Linked DNA regions of Homo sapiens. The protein of the gene in region 4 purifies or fractionates together with the protein of the main gene of each other region. This does not show direct contact. Each region holds a gene or a part of one and is shown on either strand. Other genes may lie near its edges. The genes, in order: GPR89A, PXMP2, HACD2, SLC6A15, RTN3, STX12 and CHP1.

Region 1 (3,500 bases), on a different chromosome or scaffold from region 4:
TGGTAACAGGTAAAATATTGGGCCAAGCCTGATGGCTATTATAAAACAGAATTCTAGAAAGTTGCTATGGGTAGGTCATAAATTTAGCTTTAAGTTTTCTAATGGTCAATGTGAAATAAAAAATTTGATCAGTTAGATAAAATCATCATGTCTGTAAGAAAATAAAAATTAATTCCTCAAAGGAAGCATAATTATCATTTATTGTTACTGAATTATTAACAAGATTACAATGAAATTTCTTCAAAGATTTCATAAAGAAAATGCAAAGGCAATTAACAGTGTCATCAACAACATCCTTTCAAGAGAAATATGTTTCAGAGGGCTGTTTCTTATTGTTCCTTCCTTAGTACAGATGGCAGGCATCACGAAACAAAGAGCCATTCAGTAAAAGCTACCCTACAGGGAGTGAATACCATTTAGACTAGATACATTGACAGCTTTTTGCTCCTCTAGGTTAACAACTACTTTAGAACATTTAGAGAAAGAAACAAGCTGGACATCCTCCAGGCAATACTACATAGTATTTCAGCTAAGCTTCTGAAAGATTTTGGGAAGCAGTGGGTTTGAAATAACAAGTGCAACTTTAATTGGCAGTATGGACTGCCTATTAAAAGTGAACCACATGTTTTAACTAGTCTTTTGAGCTGAGAGTAAAGTGATATTCTCTTGAAAAAACTAAGCATCCCAACAAGATTACATATTTGAATAGGAAGTCATATGATCTCTGCTCAAAGGTGAGTCAAAGGAATATTCTGGCCAAGATTCTCTTTTCAAAACGATTCTGAGTCCAGTCAATGGACAGTTATACATCATCAAGGTTCATATTTGTGTTCCATAATTGGGTGAAACATTAGCATGAAAAAACAGGTATAACTGAAGATATGTCTCAGACCCAATCCTCTATATAGCACACAAAGAAAAACCAGATTTTAGCAATGCTACTTCTTATCCTCTTTAACTAATTAAGAAATTTAGGAAACATACACCATAGTATGACAGATGTTTCTTACTATACGGGTTATTAACTATAAGTTAAAAGTTGGGGGACATCATCTACCAAAAACAGTAAATATAGCTTTAGAATATCTGAATCCTCTGTATCAATATTTAGATGAGTAGCTGGCAAACTATGGCCTCACAGCCACCTGCTTTTACAAATTAAGTTTATTGGAGCATGGCCATGCTCGTTTGTTTATATATTGCCTATGACTGTTTTCTCTCTACAACAGCAGAGCTGAGTACTTGTGATAGAAACCTTCTGGTCCACAGAAACCTAAAATATTTATTATCTGGCCCTTTACAGAAGAAAGCCTGCCAACCCCTGCTTAAATAGCAGTGAAAGATGCAGGTTGTGATAATAAAATTTAATAACCATTATGTAAAATAATACCTGTCTATTCTCTATAGTCACAGGATCTATATCTAGCTCATCCAAGAAAAGGTTTGGATTATTTTTTATTTATTTATTTTTTTGAGATGGAGTCTTGCTCTGTCGCCCAGGCTGGAGTGCAGTGGCACAATCTCGGCTCACTGCAAGCTCTGCCTCCTGGGTTCAGGCCATTCTCCTGCCTCAGCCCCCCAAGTAGCTGGGACTACAGGCGCCCACCACCACGCCCAGCTAATTTTTTGTATTTTTAGTAGAGACGGGGTTTCACCATGTTAGCCAGGATGGTCTTGATCTCCTGACCTCGTGATCCGCCTGCCTTGGCCTCCCAAAGTGCTGGGATTACAGGCGTGAGCCACCGTGCCCGGCCAAGGTTTGGATTATTAAAGTTTAAAAGCAGGAGAATCAGAAAACACTTCTATTTTACCATAATACATGTTATTCATTGTTCTATCAAGAGACCATTATTATCAACTCTGATTCTCTCTCTCTCACTCTTTTTTTTAAGAGATGGGGTCTCATTGTCTTGTCCAGTGATCACAGCTCACTGCATATCCTCAAACTCCTGGGCTCAAGGGATCCTCCTGCTTCAGCCTCCAGGGTAGCTGGCACTACAGACGTGTACTACCACACTCTGCTAATTTTTTTTATTTTTTTGTAGAGACAGGGTCTCACTTTGTTGCCCAGGCTCGTCTTGAACCCCTGCACTTAAGTGATCCTCCTGCCTCAGCCTCCCAAAGTGCTAGGATTATAGGCGTGAGCCACTATGTCTGGCCCCTCTCTCTTCTTTTTTTTTTTTTAACCTTTCAATGTTTTGTGATTAACCATCTGTATAGTAAGTTTTTCTTTTTAATTTAAATTTCGTTTTCAACTCTGATTATCAAAGGATTTGAGAGTATAGTCTCTCTACAAGTCTCAAGTGCCAGGGGTCTATAATGAACTTACCTTGGCACTGAATCCTAACTTTAGAGTGAAAGACTGCTTTACTCCTAAAAGGTTTTTCCAGGTGGTGATAAAAAAGCACAACAAAGTCTGCATAGCATAGTTGATGAACCCTACATATAAATGCTGGCCTAAAAACATACTCAAGCTTGCAGATTAACAAGCAAGAAATATTTTGAATAGACTGTCTAATAAACTAACAAGTCTATTATTTGGAGGGGAGTAAAGAGTTATTTTTAAAAAGTGTTTTAAGAAACACTTTAAATTCAACCAAACTTGACCATGACTGTAAAATCAATAAAAATAACTAAGTTAAGTAAGAACTGGAGTTTCAGTCTTCAGAGAGATCATTAAAGTAGCTCTGAGGAATTCTAATCTTTTCAGGTAGAGATTTTCAATCAGCAGAACAATGTGAAGGGCTGTTACTGGGATTCAGTCAGCGAGCAGTCCTGGAAAAATAAAGCTTCTAGGAGTGAAGCCTAGACTGCAGCTTCACAGCCTCACTCCAATGAGTTCTTCAGAGTTAACGGTCAGATCTTTTGTTTCCTGGTATCTCATAATCTTTATCAAACCAGCTATTAGGTGGCTGTGACCCATATCTGTTGTGATCATTGCAGTTACTGAAACTGAACTATTAACACAGTGTTTTTTTTTTCAGTTATGAGATCCAATAGCTTTTCCACTGTAAAGAATGTAGCACAGAACTCTTCAAGAGGAGTTTTCAGTACTCTTACTCACCTGCTATTCAATACTCCTAAGATTTCAAAGATGATGAGCTCAAACATGGTGCAAGAAAATGCAAACGTCACGGAGAAGATCACCTGTACAACATACTGACGTATCTGTTAAAAGCCAAACAGAGACTAGAAGTTATTTCCTTGTTTAAAAACTGAACTGATAACCTCCTTCTGGTTACAAGTCAGAAAACTTATTTTGAGGAAATTCTCAAGTCATTGGAAGTAGGGCCACAACAGCAACTTGCCTGGAGCTAAAGAAAAAGATCAATATAGGTGGCACTTCTGAATCTTGAGTCACTATTACCAGCATCCTCCTGTGGATGAAGAATTTTGAGGACAAGAAGATGAAGTGACAGGGTCATAGGTAGCACTTAGAATTCCTGATGCATACTGACAAAAAACTGACAGATTCGTACATAATGGTTAATGTTTAAAGG
Region 2 (3,500 bases), about 48 Mb from region 4:
CCCTTAGCCAGTTAGTGAGCGCCCTTGCCAGTTAGTTAGTGAGCGCCCTTGCCAGTTAGTTAGTGAGCTCCCTTAGCCAGTTAGTGAGCTCCCTTAGCTAGTTAGAGAGCTCCCTTGCCAGTTAGTTAGTGAGCTCCCTTAGCCAGTTAGTTAGTGAGCTCCCTTAGCCAGTTAGTGAGCTCCCTTGCCAGTTAGTTAGTGAGCTCCCTTGCCAGTTAGTTAGTGAGCTCCCTTAGTCAGTTAGTTAGTGAGCGCCCTTGCCAGTTAGTGAGCGCCCTTGCCAGTTAGTGAGCGCCCTTGCCAGTTAGTTAGTGAGCGCCCTTGCCAGTTAGTGAGCTCCCTTAGCCAGTTAGTTAGTGAGCTCCCTTAGCCAGTTAGTGAGCTCCCTTAGCCAGTTAGTTAGTGAGCGCCCTTGCCAGTTAGTTAAGTGAGCGCCCTTAGCCAGTTAGATAGTGAGCGCCCTTGCCAGTTAGTTAGTGAGCGCCCTTGCCAGTTAGTTAGTGAGCTCCCTTAGCCAGTTAGTGAGCTCCCTTAGCTAGTTAGAGAGCTCCCTTGCCAGTTAGTTAGTGAGCTCCCTTAGCCAGTTAGTTAGTGAGCTCCCTTAGCCAGTTAGTGAGCTCCCTTGCCAGTTAGTGAGCTCCCTTGCCAGTTAGTTAGTGAGCTCCCTTAGTCAGTTAGTGAGTGCCCTTGCCAGTTAGTTAGTGAGCGCCCTTGCCAGTTAGTTAGTGAGCGCCCTTAGCCAGTTAGTTAGCTCCCTTAGCCAGTTAGTGAGCTCCCTTAGCCAGTTAGTTAGTGAGCGCCCTTGCCAGTCAGTTAGTGAGCGCCCTTGCCAGTCAGTTAGTGAGCTCCCTTAGCCAGTTAGTTAGTGAGCTCCCTTGCCAGTTAGTTAGTGAGCTCCCTTAGCCAGTTAGTTAGTGAGCTCCCTTAGCCAGTTAGTTAGTGAGCTCCCTTAGCCAGTTAGTTAGTGAGTGCCCTTGCCAGTTAGTTAGTGAGCTCCCTTAGCCAGTTAGTTAGAGAGCTCCCTTGCCAGTTAGTTAATGAGCTCCCTTAGCCAGTTAGTTAGTGAGCGCCCTTGACAGTTAGTTAGTGAGCGCCCTTGACAGTTAGTTAGTGAGCTCCCTTAGCCAGTTAGTGCCCTTGCCAGTTAGTGAGTGCCCTTGCCAGTTAGCCTAGTGAGTGCCCTTGCCAGTTAGTTAGCCTAGTGAGTTCCCTTGCCAGTTTGTTAGCCTAGTGAGTGCCCTTGCCAGTTAACCTAGTGAGTTCCCTTGCCAGTTAGCCTAGTGAGTTTAATGAAAAGCTCCACAACCAGGGACATGTCTGATGATTCATTATTGAGTGCTTCTCGAAGCCTGGCCCTGTTCTGGGCACTGCAGTGGACAGAAGACGTAGCCTCCCTTGTGGAGCCTGCCTTCTAGGGGGGACGAGAGGCACAGACTAACCTAACATATGAGATAAGGACAGTGCTAGGCAGAAAATGAACCAGGGCCAAGAGTGTTAGCACAGGCGTGCACACGTGCTGGGACGACCTGGAAGCTGACAGTGTGAGGAGGAGCGAGCCAACATAGCTAGGCGGGGACGCGCTGGGAGCAGAGAGTCAACGGCAGGAGCAAGTCTGGTCTGTTAGAGCAACAGAGACAGAGCGCCCCTGAAGCCGACTTATCTGTACAGACCTGTGTGGCCAATACTGAGGGACATCAGGAAGCAGGGGTTAGGACCTGGGATTTGGGGGTGAAGCTAGACCAGAGAAGAGCACATCCAGAGAACCACAATCTGGCTCACACCCCCTGGGGGCCTCAGGTTCTTCTTCACAGGGCCGCTGAGTCACTTCTTCTACTTCTTCATGGAACATTGGATCCCTCCTGAGGTCCCCCTGGCAGGGCTCAGGAGGCTTCTCCTGGACCGCCTCGTCTTTGCACCGGCCTTCCTCATGTTGTTCTTCCTCATCATGAACTTTCTGGAGGTGGGTGTCTGCCACAGCACTTACTGCAGCTCTTCGTTTAGCACAGGGATTCTTCACCTGACATTCTCGGCAGAATTCAGAGGGTCTGCAGATTTTTCACTCAAATTGAAATTTTGCATTTTCTTTTATGAATATAGGAAGCAAACATCTAGTATTGGCAGGACCTGTTTGTACCCAGTAGAGTCACTTTATTTATTTATTTATTTAAAGACAGGGTTTCACTCTGTCACCCAGGCTGCAGTGCAGTAGCACAATCATAGCTCACTGCAAACCTCAAACTCCTGGGTTCAAGCGATCCTCTTGCCTCAGCCTCCCAAGTAGCTGGGACCACATGTGCGTGCCACCACACCCAGCTAATCAGATATTTTTATATCACATCAGTTGTTACAGATATCTCGAAATATAATTTATGCTCATTACTACTTGGACCTGCCATTAGAGGTCTTGTCACTGTGTAAAGAAAGAAACAGGCCGGGCACAGTGGCTCACACCTGTAATCCCAGCACTTTGGGAGGGCGAGGCGGGTGGATCACCTGAGGTCAGGAGTTCGAGACCAGCCTGGCCAACATGGTGAAACCTCGTCTCTACTAAAAATACAAAAAATTTAGCTGGGCACAGTGGCAGTCGCCTGTAGTCCCAGCTACTTGGGAGGCTGAGGCAGGAGAATGGCGTGAACCCGGGAGGTGGAGCTTGCCGTGAGCCGAGATGTCGCCACTGCACTCTAGCCTGGGTAATAGAGCCAGACTCCGTCTCAAAAACAAAAAACAAAACAAAACAAATTAGCCAGGTATGGTGGTGCGTGCTTGTAATCCCAGCTACTCGGGAGGCTGAGGCAGGAGAATCGCTTGAAGCCGGGAGGTGGAGGTTGTGGTGAGCTGAGATTGTGCCACTGCACTCCAGTCTGGGCAACAGAGCAAGACTCTGCCTCAAAAAAAAAAGAAAAAAGAAAAAAGAAACAGGGCCGGGCATGATGGTGCACACCTGTAATCCCAGCACTTTGTGAGGCCAAGGCCAGTGGATAGCTTGAGGCCAGGAGTTCGGGACCAGCCTGGGCAACATGGCGAATACCCATCTCTCAAAAAGTAAAAAATGAGCCAGTGTGGTGATGTGCACCTGTAGTTCCAGCTGTTTGGGAGGCTGAGGTGAGAAGATCCCTTGAGCCCAAGATGTGGAGGCTGCAGTGAGCAGAGATCACACCACTGCACTCCAGCCTGGGTAACAGAGCAAGACACTGGTTCAAAAGACAAAAATAAATAAATAAATAAATAAACACATTAGTCTGTCAAAATTTTTTCTGAATATTTTGATAACTGTATTTCAGTATTATTGGTTCCTTTGTAGTCCTATTTTATTTATTTATTTATTTATTTTTTATTTTTGAGGCAGAATCTCGCCCTGTTGCCCAGGCTGGAGTGCAGTGGTGCGATTTCAGCTCACTGCAACCTCTGCCTCCCGGGTTCAAACGATTCTCCTGCCTCAGCCTCCTGAGTAGCTGGGATTACAGGAGCCCGCTACCACACCCAGCTTATTTTTGTATTTT
Region 3 (3,500 bases), on a different chromosome or scaffold from region 4:
CCTCTGAGGGGCCACAGCAACAGCCTTTTCAAGGTGACATATAGCAAGCACTGGCCTCTGAGGGGCCACAGCAACAGCCTTTTCAAGGTGACAGATAGTAAGCACTGGCCTCTGAGGGGCCACAGCAACAGGCTTTTCAAGGTGACATATAGCAAGTACTGGCCTCTGAGGGGCCACAGCAACAGGCTTTTCAAGTTAGCTGTCGAAGACGTAGGGCAGGGATGGAGGGCACCTACTGCTCTAAACAAAACGATGAATGAGGAGTTCTGTGCAGAGAAAAAGAGAATGAGGAGAAAAGAACCATGATCCTAGGACAGCAGAAACGCTGAAGTCCAATTACAAGTGAAAAGAGTAAGTCAATTCATCAACAGTGCATATGTAAAAACAAGAGGATCCAAGAGGCGATGGGAAGACAATAAAATATACTGAAGAATGTACTACATACTTCAGAAAATGATATGCCTTTTCTTTTTCTTTTCCTTTTTTTTTTTGGCAGGTAAAGAAAATGATATGTTAATGTTAGCAGAAATTGAGTCACTCTGGTTGTAGAGAAACAATTTTGAATATGGAAATGTAATGAGTATATAACAAATTACTGTAAAGCTCAAATGTGATAATGTATGTGAAACCGTCTGTTATATGTTAAGTCCTTTGCATCTGGCAGGCAGCATGGTTATGGAGGATGACACCAAGTCCATGTACCTATAATCCACAGAGACATTTAATAGCTTTGCAAGCCAACCAGTTTCAATGATCTACACAGGAAATCCTGGCAAATGTTGCTAACAGCAACTTGACTAATAGAATTGCCTGATTTGAGTTGTAAAGCATTTTTGACGTACCTGTCTACCTGCTTTGGCAGATGTGCTCATAGCTGAGGAGTGGTCACTAAGTGGAAGGGAGGAAGCAGAGCCCATGAAGAATCTATCAACTGGTGGATTAGCACCTGGACAATTAATATTTGACTATATTGGCAAAGTGATTGGATATTTCATAGTGAACAATACTTTGACTTCATGTACCTAGCACTTAATTACTGAAAGTACATTAATTATCTATTTAAGAATGTAAATGAGTTACTACTAGGAAGAAGTTTTAGGTCATTGGAGACTATTGGAAGATAAAATTATGAGTTGTTGGTTAAAATGAAAAGGAAATGGTATCTACACAAAAGTATGAGAGGAAGAAATATCGCAGTCCTTGCTTATCTGAAGTTTCACTTTCCGTAGCTTCTGTTACACCTGGTCAACCACAGTCCAAAAATATTAAATGGAAAATTCCTGAAAGAAACAATTCCTAATTCTTAAGTTGTACACTGTTCTCAGCAGCATGATGAAATCTCATGCTGTCCCACTCTATCCCACCTAGGACACGAATCTTCCCTTTGTCCAGTGTATCCATACTGTATATGCTACTGGCCCATTAATCACTTAGTAGCTAACTTGGTTATCAGTGCTTGTGTTCAAGTAACCCTTATTTTATTTAAAAACAGCCCCAAAATGCAAGAGTAGTGATGCTGGCAATTCAGATATGCCAAAGAGGAGCCATAAAGAACTTCCTTGAAGCGAGACAGTAAAAGTTCTCAGCTTAATAACGAAACAAAACAAACTGTATGCTAAAGTTGCTAAGTCCTACAGTAGGAACAAATCTTATATTTGTGAAATTGTGAAGGAAAAAGAAATTTGTGCTTGTTTTGCTGGTGAACCTCAAACTGCAAAAGTTGCGGCCACAGGGCATGATAAATGCTTAGTAAATATGTAAAAGGCATTACATTTGCGGGTAGAAGGCATAAACAGAAACGTGTTTCGGTCAGCAGCAATCGGGTTGTGTGCTAGCCGCTGTTTCTGGTATCCAGTGGGGGTTTTGGAATGTATTCCCCTTGGATAAGAGGGAACTACTGTATAGGTTTAAAATGATGACTTGGGTCAGGTGTGGTGGCTCATGCCTGAAATCCTAGAATTTGGGGAGAGTGAGGCAGGCAGATTGCTTGAGCTCAGGAGTTCGAGAGCGGCCTGGGCAACATGATACGAACAAGATATCAGAAAAATATAACTGAGTTGCAGACCACATCCACACCATCTGAACCTCCATGAGAACTCAGATTACAGGACTTTACCATTTAATCAGTCTTCTTTTTAACAACACTGCATATCTGGGATATGTTTCCCACTATTAACCCAGTTCCTACAGTGAATGTGAGCTTTATCTCAGCTATATTGACATGACCTGGAACTCTGACCTGGAACTCTTTAGCCATAACAAACATGTGAATCAGAAAAGTTGACTAGTGTTTGTTAGTGTTGACATTATTTTGGTCTATATAAACACTTACCTCTTTGACGCTATGTGTTACTGCCCATATTAGAAAAACTCTTGACATCACCTGGAAAGAAGTCAGGACAACAGAAGATGGAACAATTCCTGAAAGAAATTTTGGGATGGATAAATAAATGTACTGTACTAAGTTTCGATATATAATATATTTTCTAAAACATTCCAACTTAAATGTTTAGAGTCAAAACGGTCTTGAGCAACTGAAAGGTGTCTATATTGTTACACAGACTAAGTTTTCAATGTAGTCCACATTAAAACAAAGTTTTCTCCCTAAAAACAATAATATTTTTAATGGTATTATAAAACCATGGGATCCAGGTACCTTTCTTAAACCTCTCAAAACCACTGACCAAGTACAGTATTTTTTACACTTACTGTATAGATGGAGAAAGCAAAACCACTACCTAATCTTTAAAATAAGACTCATTTTACAATACGGGTTTCAAAACAAATAGGAAACAAAGGATGAGAAATCAATCCTATTTGTGTCTAATGAGTGCTGGAAGCTCATGGACATCAGACTTGATACACTATCTAATGGTTAAGTTAGGTATCTTTTATTATCTACTTGAATATTTTGCCAACAAGCATAACAACATAAAAGACTATCTTTAAAACCTTTTTTTTTTTTTATCACCTTGTTCATTACAAGCCCTGGCACAATTATCCTCCCAATGTCCTCAAGTTATAACACTGGAATCATCTTTGATTATTTTCTTTATTTATTTTTTGAGACCGAGTCTCACTCTGTCACCCAGGCTGGAGTGTAGTGGTGCAATCTCAGCTCACTGCAACCTCCACCTCCCAGGTTCAAGTGATTCTTGTGCCTCAGCCTCCCAAGTAGCTGGGACTACAGGCATGTGCCACCATCGCTGGCTAAGTTTTTGTACTTTTGGTAGAGATAGGGCTTCACCATATTGGCCAGGCTGGTCTTGAACTCCTGACCTCAGCTGATCCGCCTGCCTCGGCTTCCCAAAGTGCTGGGATTACAGGTGTGAGCCACCACACCTGGCAGTTAGTTATATCTTAACAAAGCTGTTACTAAAAAAATAAATGGCCAGAAACAGTGGCTCACGCCTGTAATCCCAACACTCTGGGAGGCTGAAGCAGGAGAATTGCTTGAGTCCAGGAGTTCTAGACCATCCTGCACAACATAGCGAGACCTT
Region 4 (3,500 bases):
GAGCAAAGTCTGTTATAATGATAATTTTGAATGATGTTTCTACATTATTTTAAAAAGAAAAAAATCTTGAAAGCTTGTACCTTTGCCACTCTTATAATGCTTAAATACCAAAACACTGTATTATACATATCTTACAAGTGTGTGAAGCATTTTTCACCAAAGGACACTGATCCCAAGGCAGGGGTTGCTGAAAAGACTGAGAAAAATAAAACAAACTCCAGCCAATGATGACGTTGTAGTAGAGAGCTACAAAATAGCACACCTGCAAAATAAAATGATATCCCATTAAACCTCTCATACCTCTTCCATTAAAAGAATGAGATCAAATGCATAAAATTTTATTTAACATTTTAAAATCCTCTTCATTTTATTATTTATTTGGGACACATTATCTTTTCTAAAAAGTTAATGTCTTTCTCAGGACTTAGAACAGGCATTAACAACATTGAGCTATATTAATATTTATAGTTAATCCATATGCCAGTAACGTTTTCTAAAACATAGTAAAAGAGTTGTTTATTAACACACACTCCAAAGTTTCATTTAAATGTTAATTATATAATTTGAAACCCTATAAAGATTACAGCATACACCAACAAAAGGAAACTTACTACACAACTTGCAAATCCAATCCCGCCCAGTTTAGGGCTTATGTAATTCCATACACCAATGCTGCCTCGCCGAATTCTTTGACCCACAGAGAGTTCCAAGAAAAAAAGGGGAATACCTATTACCATAAGTAGTATTAAATATGGTAAAAGATATGCACCTAAAGAAACAACAACAAAAAATAGATTATATTTTCAATACAGTAGAAAATACACTAGTTCAGTTTATCCCATTAAAGATAATATTTGAATTACTATATAGTGCAATTATGGAGAGCTCTGAAGAAGACACAATTTCATTACTTTGCACTTTCTAGATTCTGAAACTTGAATTTGATTTCTACAAAGAGTTTCTGATAATAAAATAATTAGGATAAAATTAAGAATATTAATGAATAGCTTTAGCTTAAATTTATTTAAAGAGTAAAACAGTTTCATTTTCCATAAAAATAATTGATTATTTAAAATTCATTCTTTTCTGGGGCAGGTTTCACAAACTCCTAGAAATCTTATTCACACAATGTTTATGAACTCATTTATTAAAATTTATACAAACTCATTGAAATAATGCATTCTAAATCAGAAAAATTAGAGTGAATGAGATTTTATGGCATTAACGTTGACTTTTTTTTCCAAATAAAATAACATCATGGAAGAAGAAACGTCTGCTTAGACTGAAAAAGAAAAAAAAAAAACAGCAACATAACTTCTACCAGAGACAAATGTCATTTTTCCCATAAATACTACATAAAAGAAGTACACAAATAGATTTTGTTTTCCAAAATTATCAGAAAAGGTAGTGAGAGTCATTAAGAAATTAAAACATTTAATATCTATTGTAAAAATGTATATGTTATTATCCTTGTAATAAAATTTCCATATTTTAAAAAGTATTTTTTAGTTAAATCACAAATTAAGACATATGACTATGACTAGTGATTTCAAAAGGTACCTAAATAGTTTGACAATGTTAATACAAGATTCTATTAACTGAATTATAAAAAGATGAATGTGAAACCTTTACTCATTTCTTTGTGTCTTTCTTTCCTTTTGGAGACAGGCTCTCACTCTGTCACCCAGGCTGAAGTACAGTGGTGTGATCACTGTTCACTGCATTCTCAAACTACCCAGCTCAAGGGATCTTCCCACCTCAGCCTGTGGAGGTCGTTCCTACATGAGGCTACATGTGCAAATTATTATTAAATGACCTCTTAGCTAAACTTCTTACATTCAATTTTTTAATCTGCAGTTTTGTCCAACTAGATACTGTTAAATGTAATGGTCTTACAATCAATGGTAACTAATTCCTATTTTCTATAAAGAGCCTTTTATTATACATTTCCTACATATTTATCATATGTTTAATGGCACTGAATAGATTTTTGAAGCTATTCGAATCGTCTTAATGGAATATTTAGTGGAACACAAATACATAGTGAGTAACTGTATTCAGCTGAAGCAGTGAAATAATGGATTTTTTCAAATTATTTATCTCAGCATCTGTTTATCTCTGTAATAATGATTATATCCAGGCATTTCCCTACATAGTGGTTGCTACATAATCTGAACCTTTCTATGACTGATTTTCAGTCTTTCATTCTTAGTTGATTCTAACAAAACTACATATACAATGTAAAAATTGGATGCATGAGCTTAGAAAACAAAATTCTAATTCTAAAATGATTAGTAACATTCAGGAACTGCTGACCTGAATGTTTTTCCCAAAGACTGAAAGTGAATTTTAACATCTGCATCAAATCTTAGATTATGAATGGATTTTTTATACGCATGTGAATGAGTAAGAAAAAAGAGAGAGAGAAAGAATTATGACTGAACTCATTAGGGATTTTTTTCCAGTCATGTGTGGGTGACATGCTGTTGGATACTTAGACTTTTCTTCTATCTCAAATTCTTCTATAGAAAACAGTATGAAGAACCCTTAAAGAACTGAAAGTAGATCTACATTCAATCCAGCAAGCCCACTCCTAGATATCTACCCAAAGGAAGAAAAGTTATTATATGAAAAAGATACTTGAGGCTGGGCACGGTGGCTCATGCCTGTAATCTCAGCACTTTGGGAGGCCGAGGCTGGCAGATCGCTTGAGTTCAGGAGTTCGAGACCAGCTTGGGCAACATGGTGAGACGCCCCCCGTCTCTACTAAAAAAATAAAATAAAATACAAAAAACAAAGGAAAAAAAAAAACAGCTGAGCGTGGGCTGCGCGCCTGTGGTCCCAGCTACTCGGAAGGCTGAGGTGGGAAGACTGACTCTTGAGTCCAGAGATGGGGAGAGGTTGCAGTGAGCTGAGATCGCACCACTGCACTCCAGTCTCGGTGACAGAGTGAGACCTTGTCGAAAAAAAAAAAAAAGCCAAAAACAAAAACAAAAAAAAGACACTTACATGCATATGTTTACAGCAGTACAATTCACAATTGCAAAGATGTGGAACCAGCCTAAGTGCCCATCGACTAATGAGTGGATAAAGAAAAGGTGATATTATGCACCACAGAATACTACTCAGCCATAAAAAGGAACAAAATAATGCCCTTCATATTAAATTGAATGGAGCTGGAGGCCATTATTCTAAGTGAAATAACTTAGGAGTAGAAAACCAAAAACTTTATGTTCTCATTTATAAGTAGGAGTTAGGCTGTAAGTATGCAAAGGCATACAGTATGATGTAATGCACTTTAGAGATTCAGAAGGGGAAAATTGGGATGGGGGATACGGTTAAAAAACTACATATTATGTACAATGTATGCTACTTGGGTGAGGGGTACATTAAAATCTCTGAATTCACCACTATATAATTCATTTATGTAACAAAAATCCACTTCTACTCCAAAATCTATTGAAATAATTTTTCTTTTAAGCGTGGCACGTTGGCATGCT
Region 5 (3,500 bases), on a different chromosome or scaffold from region 4:
TTTTGAGATGGAGTCTCACATTGTTGCCTGGGCTAGAGTGCAGTGGTGTGATCTTGGCTCACCGCAATTTCCACCTCCTGGGTTCAAGCGATTCTCCTGCCTCAGTCTCCCGAGTAGCTGGGATTATAGGCATGCGCCACCACACTCGGCTAATTTTTTTGTATTTTTAGTAGAGATGGGGTTCTCCATGTTGATCCGGCTGGTCTTGAACTCCTGACCTCGTGATCAGGACCAGCTCGGCCCCCAAAGTGCTGGGATTACAGGCGTGAGCCACCGTGCCTGGCCGACTTCGAATTTTTTAATAAGAATTTTTTGGCCGGGCGCAATGGCTCACACTTGTAATCCCAGCACTTGGAGAGGCCGAGGCAGGCGAATCACCTGAGGTTGGGAGTTCCAGACCAGCCTAACCAACGTGGAGAAACTCCGTCTCTACTAAAAATACAAAATTAGCTAGGCCTGGTGGCGCATGCCTGTAATCCCAGCTACTCCGGAGGCTGAGGCAGGAGAATCGCTTGAACCCAGGAGGCAGAGGTTGCGGTGAGCCAAGGTCACACCATTGCACTCCAGCCTGGGCAAAAAGAGTGAAATTCCATCTCTCAAAAATATAAAAGAATTTTTTATTTGGGTCTAAAAATTTAGAATTTAGAATATGACTACCAACTTAATTTCTTAGTCTTTGTTTCAGATAATATATCTCAGTGGAGTATTTAGAGTTTAAGAAGATGAGTAATCATGGAGCTGAGTACTTGATAAGTTTGAGAACATGTTCATGATCATTGTGGGGATATGACATTTTTTACCTCTTACCATATATCGATTCTCACCCACCCCCCATTTTTTGAAACAAGGTCTTGCTTTGTCACCCAGGGTGGAGTGCATGGCTCACTGCAGCCTCGACCTCCTGGGCTCAAGCAGTCCTCCCACTTCAGCCTCCCAAGTAGTCAGGACCACAGGTGTATGCCACCATGACTGGCTAATTGTTTAATTTTTTTGTAGAGATGGGGTCGCACTGTGTTGCCCAGGCTGGTCTCGAACTCCTGGGCTCAAGCTGTCTCCCTGCCTTGGCTTCTCAAAGTGCTAGGATTACAGGCATGAGCCACCACACTCAGCTGATTCCCTTTTTAGTAAATCTACTAGATCTATGACTTTATTTGTTAATAATTAGAGTAGCACCATGTTTTTAAGTGATTAGAACTCTTGAAAATGAATATCCACACTAAATTCCATTATAGCAAAGAACTAATTTAGAAAATGTTCATAATGAGAGTTTTGATGGCGATTTGTTTTGAGTAGTGTTGAAAGGCTCTTAGAGTGCATGTGAAGGGATGAATCTTTTGAGAAAAGAAAGATAGTAGACATTTTCTGAGACATAAAATAATCCAGATTTATTCCACCAGACAGCTTTACAGTGTATAGTATTTTAAGAGCTAACTGCCTTCAGATTCACTGGACTTTTCTGTCCTTTTGCCAGGTACTGACTTGGGCAACAGCAGTGACTACAAGTGCCATACTGACCAATTGGAAGAGTCTTTGCTTATCGGAGCTGTTCTAAAAGGCTTATTAGTTTTTGGTCTTCATTCTATTTAATGTTTTCATGCCTTTATAAACTTTTTACTTCCAGCCCAATTTTTCCCATTGTCTTGGTACAGGTCAGCTGTGTCCAAGTTTGTTAGGGTTTCAGCTAGCCAAAAATGGTATTTTCATTTGCTGAAATTCTAAACAAAATAATTAAAGTTAAAGCACAGATGATGATGCTACCTTATTTTTCTACATGTGGGAAAGCTTGATTGATAGTAATGATTAGCGCCTGCATCTCACAATCACTGAGAAATGAATGCAGCACTGAGCTCTGTTTGCCCTCTAAGCTTGTCCCCAGAAAAAACAAGATATACCCTAAATAGTAAGTTATAATATTTTTATTAGGGAACATTATTAGAGTTTTTTTTTAATATATCTCGTAGCCATGTCATATTAATCTTTTTTCTTTTTTCCTTTTTTTCATTTTTCTCTTTTCTCTTCTCTTCTCTTCTCTTTTCTCTTTCTCACTCTGTCACCCAAGCTGGAGTGCAGTGGCATGACCATGGCTCACTGCAGCCTTGACCTCCCAGACTCAAGCAATCCTCCCACTCCAGCCTCCCAAGTGACTGGGACTACAGGCACGTGCCACCATGCACGGCTAATTTTTCTATTTTTTGTAGGGGCAGGATCTCAGCATGTTGCCCAGGCTGATCTTGACCTCTTGGACTCAAGCAATTTTCCCTCCTGTGCCTCCCAAAGTTCTAAGATACAGGCATGAGCCACCACACCCAGCCTAGAGAATCCTTAATGTTTGAAGTCTGTCAGGCTATCATGGTGCTCAGCAGAGGATGTGTTAGTATTCTGAGAATAGGACTTCTAACTTTAGTTTTACCTGAGATTATTCTACACCTAACTTGAAACTTTTGGAGTATTAAAGGTTCAAAGAAGTTAAGAGAAAAGCAAAGCTTGATAAACTGACCAGTTTGTGTCCTGCTAAAGCATAGACAGTTTTACCATGCTCTTCCCAGTGACATGAATATTCTTTGGTTAGCATTCAATTTGGTTGCTTTCTTTTTTGTTTAATCAGGCACTGTCACCACTGTATTATTGTCATCATTTTGCTTATTGATTTTGCTTATTGTCTGCCTTCCCCTCTGTGTTGTAAGCTCCATAAAGGCAAGAAATTTTTTCTGTTTTATTCACTGCTTTAAGCCCAGTTTCTAAAACAGTGTCTGACACGTGGTAGGCACTCAATAAATACCTGTTGAATTATTACTAATTCATTTTGTAGACTTTCATCTGTAAGATGACAGATCTGAATCATCTGAAATCTCCATCTCCATAAAACATATAAGCTGGCTGGGTGCAGTGGCTCATGCCTGTAATCCTAGTACTTTGTGAGGCTGAGGCGAGCAGATTGCTTGAGCTCAGGAGTTCGAGACCAGCCTGCGCAACGTGGTGAAACCAGCTCTCTACTAAAAATACAAAAAATTAGCCAGGTGCGGTGGTGCACGCCTGTAATCCCAGCTACTTCGGAGGCTGAGTCAGGAAAATCGCTTCAATCTGGGGGGCGGAGGTTGCAGTGAGCCGAGATTGCACCACTGCACTCCAGCCTGGGCAACAGAACTAGACTCTGTCTAAAAAAAACACACAAAAAACACACAAAAAAACATATAAGCTGAACCTCCCCTGTGGGGTGGAGTCAGTTTGACTCACCTCAGAGTTGTTTGAAGAGAGAGGTTCCCAAACAGTTTTACCATAACCTTAGTTCACTGAATGTTTTGTGGTAGAAACACTGACTAGTAAGTTCAGTAACAATGCATGGCTCAGATTGTGGAATATTTCTGATTTAAATGTAATCTGTAGTACTTCACACTTCAGATTTTTGAACCTTTTAACCTACAATACTGGGCTTCATTTCTGTTATGCCCTAATCTAGTCATGCTGAATATCCATACTGTATAATGGTAGATGCAAACCAT
Region 6 (3,500 bases), on a different chromosome or scaffold from region 4:
ACCACCACACCCGGCTAATTTTTTGTGTTTTTAGTAGACACGGGGTTTTACCATGTTGGTCAGGCTGGTCTTGAACTCCAGACCTCAGGTGAGCCACTCGCCTCAGCCTCCCAAAGTGCTGGGATTACAGGCATGAGCCACCGCGCCCGGCTAGTAATTTTTCTTTGAAGGAAGGATTATTATTATTATTTGAGACAGAGTCTTGCTCTGTTGCCCAGGCTGGATTGCAGTGGCACGATCATGGCTCACTGCAGCCTTGATCTCCTGGGCTCAAGTGATCTTCTGCCTCAGGCTCCTGAGTAGCTGGGACCACAGGTACATGTTACAGCACCCGGTTAATTTTTTATTTTTTGTAGAGGTAAGGTCTTGCTACACTGCCCAGGCTGTCTTGAATTCCTGGGCTCAAGCAATCATCCTGCCTCAGCCTCCAACTTGCCGGGATTACAGGCATGAGCCATTGCACTTAGCCATATTTCTAATGTTAGACAATTAATTCAATTAGTAGTAGCAGTAGGTGAAAAAGAGTAAAGATATGACATTTTTGAAGGCAATAAAATAATCATAACTTAAGGATAAACTATCCCATCTAAAAACAGACAAGACCAGCCTGGCCAAAATGGCAAAACCTCGTCTCTACTAAAAATACAAAAATTAGCCAGGAGTGGTGGCGGGCACCTATAATCTTTGCTACTCAGGAGGCTGAGGCAGGAGAATCGCTTGAACCCAGGAAGTGGAGGTTGCAGTGAGCCAAGAACGCGCCACTGCACTCCTGCCTGGGTGACAGAGTAAGACTCTGACTCAAAAAATAAATAATAAATAGATAAAAACAGACATTGATGGCCTTTAGGGCAGTGGGTCTCAACCCTGGCTGCATATTATAATCACCTGGGGGAACTTTTTAAAAAAATACCCATGCCCAGGGCCTCACGCCCAGAAATTATGATTTATTAGTTTGAACCATATAAAATAATGGATATTTGCCCATTTTTAACATATAATAAACAGGAATTTCACATTATCCCATCAGGTAATTAGTGGTGGATGAGAGCTGGGGCATTAAAAAAAAATCTTCTCCAGGTGATCCTCATGTGCACTCACAGTTCAGAACCACTGCTACAGATGGAGGCCAAGGAAGAGCTCAAAATTTCCCTCTCTCCTTTTCTCCTCCCCTGATCCCAGCAATGGCAGCCTTCTACCTTCGGAGAAAACTAAACTGGAGAAAACTCAGGTTTAAGGATATTTTAGCTGGGCACAGTGGTTCATGCCAGTAATCCCAGCACTTTGGGAGGCTGAAGCAGGCAGATCACTTGAGGTCAGAAGTTCAAGACCAGCCTGGCCAAAATGGCAAAACCCTGTCTCTACTAAAAATACAAAAATTAGCCGAGTGTGGTGGTGCGTACTGGTAGTCTCGGCTATTCAGGAGGCTGAGGCAGGAGAATCACTTGAACCCAGGAGAGGGAGGCTGCAGTAAGCTGAGATAGTGTCATTGCACTCCTGCCTGGGCGACAGAGCAAGACTTAGTCTCGGAAAAAAAAAAAAAAGGATATTTTATTAGTCACTGTGCAAAATTAAAGTTGAAAGCTCAGTTAGGTAAGAAAGGCCTACAGACTTCTCCCTCAACCTCCACCTCAAAAACTGTTCCTATTTCTCTGACTCACTGAAGGGATAAGATGTACAACTTGGGATTAGACTTTAGGATATACAAAAATGGAGCAAGACTTTTGGCCTGCCTTTATTCTGGGCTCTTCAGACTAAGCAAAGGGGCTCTCCATGGAGTCCTGCCTAACCCGGAGGTTGGCATTGAGATTTGAGGTCAAAGTTCTAATGAGCAATAAAATATCTGTCTGCCTTGTTCTGTTCTCCATGTACATTTCTCCAGGAGAAATAAGATGTGGTGATCCGTATAAGATGTGGTGATTGAGGAAAGGATTTGAGTACTCCTGGGCACCAAGGCCAATGCCATTATAACAGTAGTTCATGCCAGGAGCGGTGACTCACGCCTGTAATCCCAGCACTTTGGGAGGCCGATGAGGGTGGATCACCTGAGGTCGTGAGTTCAAGACCAGCCTGACCAACATGGAGAAACCCCGTCTCTACTAAAAATACAAAATTAGCTGGGCGTGGTGGCACATGCCTGTAATCCCAGCTACTCGAGAGTCTGAGGCAGGAGAATCGCTCGAACCCAGGAGGCAGAGGTTGCAGTGAGCCAAGATCACACCACTGCACTCCAGCCTGGGCAACAAGAGCGAAATTCCATCCAAGATAAAAAAAAAAACAAAAAAAACCGGTAGTTCAAACCCACCATGATTACACTGAGACAGAAAAAATACAAATCACACAATGACACATTTTATGCCTTTTCATAATCACTAAGAGAATTAAAGTGAACTAAGGAGTTCAGATACCTGCAGACACACTGAGTCAAACAAAAAACATGACGTGGCTCTCACCTCCAGCTGCCGAATTGCCGTTTCTCTTTCTTTAATAAGTTCCAAATCCTGCTCAGTGATGGCCACCTCATCCTCCTGGCTCTGCATCTGGTTCCACTCCTCATGGCTGCAGGGAAACAGGCACACTAGGTGATTTCTCCTCTCAAAGGCATAACAAGACATATCTCCAACATCTCTACTGCCAGCAGAACCTATGCAAAGACATTACCAGGGCTCCAGTCCTCTGCTATCAATAAAGTCTTGGAGGGCCACATTCTTCATATCCAGAAGCAAAGAGCTGATGATATCAGGAAAACAAAGACTCAGCTTCCATGGGCAAAGCTGACATGTGGCAGAATTATGACGGATGGGACTCCTGGCTGTTTCCATTTAGGGGTATACTCTGTAATCTCACTGGGGCTTGCCAGACAAGGAAAGTAGCCAGAGATTTGAACTCATTGAATTATGTTGCACCATCATCTTCCAGGGCACTCTCAAAGTGCAAGCTGCATTAGTACCTTCAGTACTAAGTGGGTGGAGAAGAGCAAGCTAAGTGACCTATCAGTGCTTTGCCAGTTAGTTCAACAGAATCACATCTCCTAGTTTTCCAAAATTTCCTTGGGGTTATGCTTTGGGTTAAATACCTCTTAACAGGCCAGGCGCGGTGGCTCATGCCTGTAATCCTAGCACTTTGGGAGGCCGAGGCAGGAGGACTGCTTGAGGCCAGGAGTTCAAGACCAACCTGGCTAACATAGCAAAACCCTCATCTCTATTAAAAAACAATCCATAAAAAACCCTCTTAACAGAAAGCTAGTGAAATGTTATAACACTTTTTAAAAAATTCTTTTTAGAAATGGGGGTCTTGCTTTGTTGCCCAGGCTGGTCTCAAACTCCTGGCTTTAAGCTATCCTCCTGCCTCAACCTGCCAAAGTGCTGTGATTACAGGCTTGAGCCACCATGCCTGGCTTTTTTTTTTTTTTTTGAGACGGAGTTTCGCTCTTTCATCCAGGCCGGAGTGAAGTGGCGCTTACTTCACTCCGCCCCCCGGGTTCAAGAGATTCTCCTGCCTCA
Region 7 (3,060 bases), on a different chromosome or scaffold from region 4:
TGTAATCCCAGCTACTCAGGAGGCTGAGGCAGGAGAATTGCTTGAACCTGGGAGGCGGAGGTTGCAGTGAGCCAAGACTGTGCCATTACACTCCAGCCTGGGCAAGAGTGAGACTCCATCTCAAAAAAGAAATGCAAAGAAAAAGCCATGTAAAACCAGAGTATGTCACCGCTGAGGCTGCACATGAATGAGGAGGTGGGCAATTTAAGGAATGGACATATACTGGATTTTTAGGCTTTTTCTACATTTAAGGAGTCAGGGAGTCAAGAATAGAAATTGCGTCTTAGCTGGAATGAATGGGAAGTGGCCACGGCTGACAAAACCATGTCGAAGCCAAAAGTGCTGGCCCCTCGATGAATGTTTCCACTTCATATATCCAGGCAGCAGCAGAGTAGACTGCAGCTGACCGTACAGACATAAACTTGAGTAAGGGAGACACTGTGATTTCAAACTTGAAGGGACTAAGTTACATAAAATTCTTGTAAAATGGACAAAAGTTATTTTGTTTCAACCACAAGTATTTATTGATGGATCGAAGATACAATTTTAATGGAACAATAAGGCACAACCGTGGATTAAAACACTTTGCTATACAGCCAAAAGGGGGGAAAATCTATAACCTTAGGAACTTTATGCCAATCAAGAAGCCTCTAAAGTACCTCTCTAATAGATCAGTATCAGACATTCTTCCCTTTTACATAATTCCTATATTACATCACTTAATCATAAAATCTGACTGATACTTCATAAAGAATTCCTCATTCATTTATATTTGAGCCATCCAGCCTGGCTACTCCCCTGTTCTCCACCCTTTTCCATCACTTTGCAGTGGTATTTTTTAGCAATCTTCAATAGTTTTCCAAAGCAAGGAAACAAGCAAGCAAGCAATGAGTCAGAAAGTCAACCAAGGGCAGATGTGTGGCTAAATACACTCATAGAGACATACATTAGGATAGCAATAGCCTGATTCACTGAAGTCTAAACTAAGCTGACTTGGCAGAAAAGTTGCTGTGGCTCGCTCAAAGATCTGTAATGCCACCTTAGGTTGTGCTACTAGTGCCAGACCTCTTGTTTTTAAGGGATTAGCAGTGGTCTAAACAAGAAGCCAGGGAGCTAATGTAACCAGGCAGCTAATGACACAACAGTCAATGCTTTGGACATGTATTAGGAGCAGACTATGGCTTCCGTCATTAACATTTGCCAAGTGTAAAATTCATAAAGAATTTTGCGGCTGAGCACGGTGGCTCATGCCTGTAATCCCAGCACTTTGGGAGGCCGAGGCAGGAGGATCACCTGAGGTCAGGAGTTCAAGACCAACCTGGCCAACATGGTGAAACTCCCTCTCCACTAAAAATGCAAAAATTACCCAGGTATGGTGGCACACGTCTGTAATCCCAGCTACTTGGGAGGCTGAGGTGGGAGAATTGCTTGAACCCAGGAGGCAGAGGTTGCAGTGAGCCAAGATCACGCCACTGCACTCCAGCCTGGGTGACAGAGTGAGACTCCATCTCAAAAAAAAGAATTTTGTGCAAAACTTCAAGACACTAAGGAAACAATCTTTAAATATTTTGGACTGGGGCCAGGCGTGGTGGCTCACACCTGTAATCCCAGCACTTTGGGAGGCTGAGGCAGGCGGATCACGAGGTCAGGAGTTCGAGACCAGCCTGGCCAACATGGTGAAACCCTGTCTCCACTAAAAATACAAAAAATTAGCCGGGCATGGTGGTGCACACCTGTAATCCCAGCTACTTGGGAGGCTGAGGCAGGAGAATCACTTAAATCCAGGAGGCTGAGGTTGCAGTGAGCGATCGCACCACTGCACTCCAGCCTGGGTGACAGAGCAAGACTCTGTCTCAAAAAAAAAAAAAAAAAAAAAAAAAAATTTGGACTGGGATATTAGGCACTTCCGTAACACTAATATTTCTACTTGGAAATGTGAAGTGGAAAACATTCCAGTGCACATAACACTGAGGCATAAACCATGCTGCAAAGGTGTGAATGCATGAGGCTTTATAGGGTGCCCAGCCTCCTTATTAAATAAAAGCCATGAGAAAGTCCCTAGGCATATTGTCAGAGCAGCCATTCTGGTGGTAACGGTGTCCCCAAACTAAGCAAACCTGTAAGCATACTGCTGCTTTTTCAACAGTCAACATTGCACTAACAAGAGGAGCCACACAGGTACAAAGTTGAGAATCAGAGGCCAGAGATAGAGTGATGTGGGCAAGCAACCTAGAAGACTTGGCTCCATACCTCTCACCAAGGCCACCTTTCAAAAAGGGTATCTCCACCCAGCAGCCTTTGATGACAGAGCAGAGTGCAGAGGATGGTCTCATACTTCTGAGAGAAGTATTGATTACCAAAAAGCTCCTGAAGAGGCAACATCCCAGAGGCCCATTTAATAATGAAGGTAAATAAAAACTGCCAGACCCCTGAACTATCCTGCCAAGTCAGAAATACATATATAGGACATAGCTTGTGGTGCCAAGTAGAACAGAGGAGATTTTGAGGCTTAATGAAAAGCAGAAAGACTGCCAGAGTAAGTGAACAGTATGTTGGAAGACAGGGAAGTAGGAAGCAAAGAACATATAAAAAGGATGAAGAAGCATGCTGGCAGACTCGCTGGAGGGAAGGCAGCAGGGCTACAGTCTACATCTGGTGAAAGAGCTTTGCTGGCTTGTTCTTGGCATGATTGCCTCTCTCACTTTCTCAGACTGGATGGATGTGTGGCATTCAGCAGCAGAATGGGGAAGATGATATTTATAAATGAAGAACTAGTGAATGGATACTGAACAGAAATATATAGGGTGTACCATTCTGTAATGCCCTGTTTATACACCAAAGGCAGGTTTGTGTTGACAGAACATATTTGGGGTTGTCATGCAACAGCAGTAGTACTTTGGGAGAAGGGGAATGAGGGGGTGGAGGTGGAGTTGGTAGAAGGAGGACTTTCAAGTTCCAGTTCTTAAATACTAGACCGCAAGGAACAGTTTGGTCTCCTTTAGTGAAGAAATCGGATGCTCATTTTCTGTTCTACATCCACCTTCTCCAAAACCTGGGGGA

The links.
Region 1: the proteins of SLC6A15 (region 4) and GPR89A purify together in Homo sapiens (affinity purification with mass spectrometry, with the first as the bait; 2 studies listed by BioGRID). This does not show direct contact.
Region 2: the proteins of SLC6A15 (region 4) and PXMP2 purify together in Homo sapiens (affinity purification with mass spectrometry; 2 studies listed by BioGRID and IntAct, with this or other methods). This does not show direct contact.
Region 3: the proteins of SLC6A15 (region 4) and HACD2 purify together in Homo sapiens (affinity purification with mass spectrometry; 2 studies listed by BioGRID and IntAct, with this or other methods). This does not show direct contact.
Region 5: the proteins of SLC6A15 (region 4) and RTN3 purify together in Homo sapiens (affinity purification with mass spectrometry; one large-scale study listed by BioGRID and IntAct). This does not show direct contact.
Region 6: the proteins of SLC6A15 (region 4) and STX12 purify together in Homo sapiens (affinity purification with mass spectrometry; one large-scale study listed by BioGRID and IntAct). This does not show direct contact.
Region 7: the proteins of SLC6A15 (region 4) and CHP1 purify together in Homo sapiens (affinity purification with mass spectrometry; one large-scale study listed by BioGRID and IntAct). This does not show direct contact.

What each region holds. Positions count from the first base shown.
Region 1 is NC_000001.11:145,617,988-145,621,487, reverse strand, and holds part of GPR89A (Golgi pH regulator A), read right to left. Parts: intron 3,169-3,500; coding exon 3,065-3,168; intron 1-3,064. UniProt on the Homo sapiens protein: Voltage-gated channel that enables the transfer of anions such as iodide, chloride, bromide and fluoride which may function in counter-ion conductance and participates in Golgi acidification.
Region 2 is NC_000012.12:132,694,087-132,697,586, forward strand, and holds part of PXMP2 (peroxisomal membrane protein 2), read left to right. Parts: intron 1-1,797; coding exon 1,798-1,960; intron 1,961-3,500. UniProt on the Homo sapiens protein: Seems to be involved in pore-forming activity and may contribute to the unspecific permeability of the peroxisomal membrane.
Region 3 is NC_000003.12:123,526,054-123,529,553, forward strand, and holds part of HACD2 (very-long-chain (3R)-3-hydroxyacyl-CoA dehydratase 2), read right to left. Parts: intron 2,422-3,500; coding exon 2,333-2,421; intron 1-2,332. UniProt on the Homo sapiens protein: Catalyzes the third of the very long-chain fatty acids (VLCFA) elongation four-step cycle (condensation, reduction, dehydration, and reduction).
Region 4 is NC_000012.12:84,885,300-84,888,799, forward strand, and holds part of SLC6A15 (sodium-dependent neutral amino acid transporter B(0)AT2), read right to left. Parts: intron 770-3,500; coding exon 612-769; intron 263-611; coding exon 136-262; intron 1-135.
Region 5 is NC_000011.10:63,712,500-63,715,999, forward strand, and holds part of RTN3 (reticulon-3), read left to right. Parts: intron 1-3,500. UniProt on the Homo sapiens protein: May be involved in membrane trafficking in the early secretory pathway. Inhibits BACE1 activity and amyloid precursor protein processing. May induce caspase-8 cascade and apoptosis.
Region 6 is NC_000001.11:27,811,219-27,814,718, reverse strand, and holds part of STX12 (syntaxin-12), read right to left. Parts: intron 2,557-3,500; coding exon 2,451-2,556; intron 1-2,450. UniProt on the Homo sapiens protein: SNARE promoting fusion of transport vesicles with target membranes. Together with SNARE STX6, promotes movement of vesicles from endosomes to the cell membrane, and may therefore function in the endocytic recycling pathway.
Region 7 is NC_000015.10:41,279,328-41,282,387, reverse strand, and holds the end of CHP1 (calcineurin B homologous protein 1), read right to left. Parts: intron 3,053-3,060; coding exon 2,999-3,052; 3' UTR 501-2,998; downstream 1-500. UniProt on the Homo sapiens protein: Calcium-binding protein involved in different processes such as regulation of vesicular trafficking, plasma membrane Na(+)/H(+) exchanger and gene transcription. Involved in the constitutive exocytic membrane traffic.